2 separate regions of the Homo sapiens genome follow, and region 2 is reported to be linked to region 1. The links are microRNA targets in miRTarBase. Many come from high-throughput screens and were not tested one by one. Region 1 holds a microRNA gene; the other region holds the end of a gene's coding sequence.

The links. Region 1 holds the annotated microRNA hsa-miR-199a-5p (CCCAGUGUUCAGACUACCUGUUC, at 1,878-1,900, shown strand). A microRNA usually pairs through its seed, bases 2 to 8, with sites in the 3' UTR of a target mRNA and lowers its output. Matches are read on the target gene's strand: a 7mer-m8 pairs with bases 2 to 8, a 7mer-A1 pairs with bases 2 to 7 and ends in A, and an 8mer does both.
Region 2: miRTarBase lists ETS2 as a target of hsa-miR-199a-5p. Seed matches in the 3' UTR shown: 7mer-A1 at 1,826-1,832.

Annotation. Positions count from the first base shown.
Region 1 is chr1:172,143,336-172,146,491 of GRCh38, reverse strand. It overlaps MIR199A2 (microRNA 199a-2), which reads left to right and starts at 1,848; the gene lies at 1,848-1,957. All of the region lies in intron 14 of DNM3 (dynamin 3), which reads right to left. DNM3OS (DNM3 opposite strand/antisense RNA) reads left to right here and starts at 1,657. Exons shown (of 4, transcript NR_103486.1): 1 at 1,657-1,838; 2 at 2,055-2,127.
Region 2 is chr21:38,822,221-38,825,376 of GRCh38, forward strand. It overlaps ETS2 (ETS proto-oncogene 2, transcription factor), which reads left to right. Exons shown (of 10, transcript NM_005239.6): 10 at 454-2,735. The coding sequence ends at 669. Among named protein-coding and RNA genes, the nearest start is that of ETS2, 18 kb to the left of the region's middle. RefSeq lists an enhancer at 181-718.

The sequences.
Region 1 (3,156 bases):
AGCAAAAGTACAGAGATATAAAGTCATTCCTCTGACTCCTATTGATGATATAAATATTTCTATGAATGGTGTACCCAGTGCTAACCTCTGTTCCATCCTAAGATGCCAGATAATTCATGTTTATCTTATTTAATCTTCCTCACAAGATAACAAGGGCTTGTCATAACTTTTGAACTCTTCAGTAGTGTGCTATTTAATGATTCAAAAGAGGCCATTTTATGAAAAGCAAATGCTTTAGGACAGTACTCACTTGAAGCTTTTTGAAATATACAATGCAGCGTATAAAAAAGAGATATATTTTTCTACTTCTAAAAAGTATTTCAGAAGGCCAGTGGAAATGAATTGCTTTGGCTGTACTTTCTTTAAAGAAGGCTAAGTTTCTTAGTCTGGTTGGTCAAATTAAATTTGGAAGCTACCTAGAAATTTTCTCACATTTTGATCTTCAGAAGGGCAATTAATCAAGCTCTTGTTTGAGGCGACTCTAGCTTTGATCAGAATCCTATGGAGGGAAAGTGAGAGAACTACATATTCAGAATATTCAAGAGTATATATAATTGAAAACAGCCACAACAGGGAAAGAAAAGTAGATGCCAGTGGGCTGATATCTTATAACCTTTGGTCAAGCGGTACTTGGCAAATTTCAACAGATTTAGTTAACCAGAGATAAAACTAAGCCACAGAATACCATGAAAACAAAACAAAAGTATCAAAACAGAATCAGGAATTACAAGTGAAAAACAATGCTATACCTAACAGCATGGATCTACCAGAGGCGATTTGTTAGAAGACCTGAGTCGTTGTTTCGTAGTGGATGCTTCAAACAAAAACTGTAACGTTTCTTTAGGTCAAACTATAGCACAGCATTCAGAGACCCAGCCAAAATAGCTGAGGGAAACTAGGAAGGCCACATGTGGAACTAATTACTCATGTAGAGGCCATGACAAAGAACATTTCTCCAGACTTTTCATGGGGGCTTCACTTTCAGGAAGTTGCTATAATTACTGTTCAAGTCTAGAGCAGCCTGCAAGCTGCTGACAGATTCAACAGACAGGAGAAGGAGGGAGAGAGAGAAGGAGAGAAAGAGAGAGAGAGCGGGAGGGAAGGAGGGAGGGAGGGAGAGAGAGGGAGGGAGAGGGGAAGAGGGGGAGAGAGAGAGAGAGAGAGAGACAGACAGACAGACAGACAGACAGAAACTTATCTGCCCTTTTTGACGAGTGAAATACCAGAAAATAAAGTGCCACAGGAAAGCTCAAAAAGGTTTCCAAATGAGCTCTGCCTTCCAGTGTTCAACTTTCTGTTTACTATTTCATCTACCCTCTATCTTCAAATTACTTCTCTAGCCTGGGTCAGACAGTAAATTTGTACTTCTACACTAACTCACTTTCAGTTGGCCACAGCCGAACTGTACATCTTGACTCTTTTTTTTTTACAGCTTTTCCATACTGGGGCCCACTTCCTGCCCAGTTGAGGAAAAAAATCTGGCCTGAAGATGAAATGACTGCTTAACGTTACACTAAAACATCTGGTACCATTTTATGCACAGACCCATGTCTGAGAGCAGGCGATTCTAGCGGTCTCTCCAGCGGCACAGCGCATACCCAAACCTCCCCAGGGTGACATCATCCCATATATGGACTCTCCAGCCCAGCCCTCCCCCTTTTCCTGGTCCTAAATTCATTGCCAGTTCCCCAGTCTGCAGCAAATGTGCCACGTCAAGACTGGAAATCACAGCCCTTGAGTGTGTCTCAGTCAGCGCAGCAGAATTCAGGGGGGAAAGCTGAATGCAACCCCTGGTGCAGGAAGGGAGGCTTTTCCTGAGGACCGGGAGAGGATTTTAAGTACATAGAAGGAAGCTTCTGGAGATCCTGCTCCGTCGCCCCAGTGTTCAGACTACCTGTTCAGGACAATGCCGTTGTACAGTAGTCTGCACATTGGTTAGACTGGGCAAGGGAGAGCAACGCCATGGACCGCTGGGGACAAAATGGGCTGTTTCCAAGGAGAAGACATTTGTTTGCTCCTTTTTTGAATCTCATATCCAGTGTTTTTCTTCACAGGTTTTGCACACTAGGGACCAAGAAGCCCTCGGGGACACTGCTGAGAAAAGACTGCCGAAGGGAAGACCAGCGGGTAAGGCCTTCTTGACTGCTCACCTGGTCTGTGACCAAGGGAACCTAGGTGGGGAGCCCATGATTTGTGTTAACATGCAAGGGAAACAGAGGTACATGTGTGATGGGTAGAGATGTATTTAATTTTAAAAGAGCAAAAGTGTGTGGTATATAGCGATTTACTGTTTTTTTTTTTTTTATTTCTGAAGATTGATAATTCAAGTGTTTTCTTAAAGGTTTTCCCACTTCAAAATGAAATATGAAAAAACTCATTCCAGACACTTAAGAATAGTTTAATGAGGCTACTTTTGAATTGTTTAATAATAATTCAAAGATTTAAAAACTTATATGGATGAAGGCTGTATGTATAACTTTTAACATCCCAGGACTGAAGTCATTTTTCCCCAAAGTAAAGAATACTTGCTGGTTTTTAAATGCTATATGGATAGTGCTTTTCTGAAGATTTCCTTCTGTAATATAAACAACAGGAATAATAGTACCTAACAATAAAAGAAGAACCTGCCAAGTCTTGCCTACCAGACAATGCAGATGGGATTTGCCCAGAGAAGAGCACCGACCCACAACTTATTGAGTCAGCAACTGAGTAAATCAGGGAATAAAAACCTCTATCTTTAGATACCCCTGTAAATATCTGTTTTACATTTTTTTTAAATCAAAGAGTGGTTAATAATTGCTGCTCAGCTGAGCCCTCTTGCCTATAGCTTACAATGCTTCCACTTCTCTGAGCATTTAAAATAAGGCACTTTGTCTAGAAACCCACTGATAAAAAAGGAATTTGTAAACGAAGGCAGAAGTTTTCTTTGGTCAGTTTCCAGCTGTCCTGGAGGTGAAAGAGGGTGGGAGAGGGGGAGGAAGGTGGGAGGGAAGAAAACCCTCAAGCTGAATGAAATCCTAATAGAGAAAATAATAGAGCAAGTCTGGATTGCAATGTGATCTGTGCTGAACTTTAGAGGTCGGCCCCTTAAAGAAAGTTCTGGAAAAATGTTATTGCCTCATCCCTAATTTTCTTAACCCCCATTAATTTCTATTC
Region 2 (3,156 bases), not on the chromosome of region 1:
AGCGTAATCTGTCACCATTCCCACCCCGCCTCCAGTTCCCTTGGGAGACAAGCATTGAGGAATGAGTATATCACACAGCTCAGAATCCCACTCGGCACCTGTTAACTTCAGTAGTTGGAATATCCAGCCTGGAGGGTGGGTGACACCACCTTTCCCTGGTCTCAGGACCCTCCTGGCTCTGAACCCTTGGCTCCCAGGAGGTTTCACTGAGCTGGGGCCAGGGAGCAGGGACCTCATTCCCCAGTGGTTCTGCCCCTTGGGGACACAGTGCCCCTACCATAGGTACTCAAAGGTACTCAGAGGTACTCAAAAGGTCCTCCTGCGGACCTTGTGTAGGTGTCAAGTTCTCTCTAGAGTGAACATGCCTCAGAATCATAATCAGGGAGGAATGTCATTCACTTTTTCTTCATTGACAAATTGAGTTTAACTCTTTTCCATCCATGTTCACCAAAGGTGGCCCGCCGGTGGGGAAAGAGGAAAAATAAGCCCAAGATGAACTACGAGAAGCTGAGCCGGGGCTTACGCTACTATTACGACAAGAACATCATCCACAAGACGTCGGGGAAGCGCTACGTGTACCGCTTCGTGTGCGACCTCCAGAACTTGCTGGGGTTCACGCCCGAGGAACTGCACGCCATCCTGGGCGTCCAGCCCGACACGGAGGACTGAGGTCGCCGGGACCACCCTGAGCCGGCCCCAGGCTCGTGGACTGAGTGGGAAGCCCATCCTGACCAGCTGCTCCGAGGACCCAGGAAAGGCAGGATTGAAAATGTCCAGGAAAGTGGCCAAGAAGCAGTGGCCTTATTGCATCCCAAACCACGCCTCTTGACCAGGCTGCCTCCCTTGTGGCAGCAACGGCACAGCTAATTCTACTCACAGTGCTTTTAAGTGAAAATGGTCGAGAAAGAGGCACCAGGAAGCCGTCCTGGCGCCTGGCAGTCCGTGGGACGGGATGGTTCTGGCTGTTTGAGATTCTCAAAGGAGCGAGCATGTCGTGGACACACACAGACTATTTTTAGATTTTCTTTTGCCTTTTGCAACCAGGAACAGCAAATGCAAAAACTCTTTGAGAGGGTAGGAGGGTGGGAAGGAAACAACCATGTCATTTCAGAAGTTAGTTTGTATATATTATTATAATCTTATAATTGTTCTCAGAATCCCTTAACAGTTGTATTTAACAGAAATTGTATATTGTAATTTAAAATAATTATATAACTGTATTTGAAATAAGAATTCAGACATCTGAGGTTTTATTTCATTTTTCAATAGCACATATGGAATTTTGCAAAGATTTAATCTGCCAAGGGCCGACTAAGAGAAGTTGTAAAGTATGTATTATTTACATTTAATAGACTTACAGGGATAAGGCCTGTGGGGGGTAATCCCTGCTTTTTGTGTTTTTTTGTTTGTTTGTTTGTTTGTTTTTGGGGGGTTTTCTTGCCTTGGTTGTCTGGCAAGGACTTTGTACATTTGGGAGTTTTTATGAGAAACTTAAATGTTATTATCTGGGCTTATATCTGGCCTCTGCTTTCTCCTTTAATTGTAAAGTAAAAGCTATAAAGCAGTATTTTTCTTGACAAATGGCATATGTTTTCCACTTCTTTGCATGCGTTTAAGTCAGTTTATACACAAAATGGATTTTATTTTTTAGTTTAACTGTGTTTCTCCGACAGCTCACCTCTCTCTGACCACCCAGCCATTTCCTTCCTGTGCTCCACGTTCTTCTGTGTGATTAAAATAAGAATATTATTTTTGGAAATATGCAACTCCTTTTCAGAGATCAGGAGGGATTTATGTAGCAGCTATTTTTACTGCAAAAGTAATTCACTGGAAAAAAAATGTAATTTGTAAGAAAGCTTTATTTTTATCTCAGCTCTATGTAAAGTTAAAGTTACTGTACAGAGCTGAAGGACGGGGGGCGGTAGGGGTCTTGATGAAACCTCTTGAACGAAGCACAGTTTGTCCCATCTTTGTTCACTCGTGTGTCTCAACCATCTTAATAGCATGCTGCTCCTTTTTGCTCAGTGTCCACAGCAAGATGACGTGATTCTTATTTTCTTGGACACAGACTATTCTGAGGCACAGAGCGGGGACTTAAGATGGGAAAGAGAAAGCATCGGAGCCATTCATTCGGAGAAAACGTTTTGATCAAAATGGAGACTTTTGTAGTCGTTTCAAAAGAGCACCTGAGTCATGTGTATTCCCGGCCTTTATAAATGACCCGGTCAAGTTGGTTTCAAAGTCCGACAGGCTTGTCTGTTTACTAGCTGCGTGGCCTTGGACGGGTGGCTGACATCTGTAAAGAATCCTCCTGTGATGAAACTGAGGAATCGGGTGGCCGGGCAAGCTGGGAAGAGCAAAGCCAGAGCTGCGCTGCCTCAATACCCACAAAAGACCATTCCCAGTATACATAAGCACAGGATGTTTTTCTCAAGAGGGATGTATTTATCACTTGGACATCTGTTTATAATATAAACAGACATGTGACTGGGAACATCTTGCTGCCAAAAGAATCCTAGGCAGTGGCTCATTGTATGTGAGGTTGAACCACGTGAAATTGCCAATATTAGGCTGGCTTTTATCTACAAAGAAGGAGTTTCATGGGGTTCAGCCTAACAGTTATGGAAACTACAGTCCTTATAAACCATTGGCATGGTAATAAACAGATCTTAAGTATAAAAATTTTGTAATTGGGCCTTTACTCTCTCAATAATAAAGTATTTTGTTTATATAAATTCTTTGTGATAGTCCTCGTTCTTCCTCTCCACACCCAGCATGAAGGAGTTGGAGGAAGGATGTTAACCCCAGATCCATTCTCTACTCAAAACATTCCATCATCAAGCGGCAAGTCTCTGTTTAACTGGTTTATACACAAGTCACTTAGAAACCACAACCCAAATTGGAATCAACTTTGAGCCCTTCCTAAAAGAATTCCCAAAAAGTGCTCTCTTTCAAAACAAAAAATTCTTTTAAGAAAGTGTTATAATAGAAAGATTCAAATGTCTTTCTTTGCCAGAAGCTTGGCAGAGATAACAGAGGAGAGATTCTGGAATGTTTATATTAAGTACATTAGAATTTGAGGTTTAAGTACTTTTGGAACTGAGGCCACAACACTCTGTCCCCTCAGTGGAGTCTGACATTGGTAAGGTGATGGTG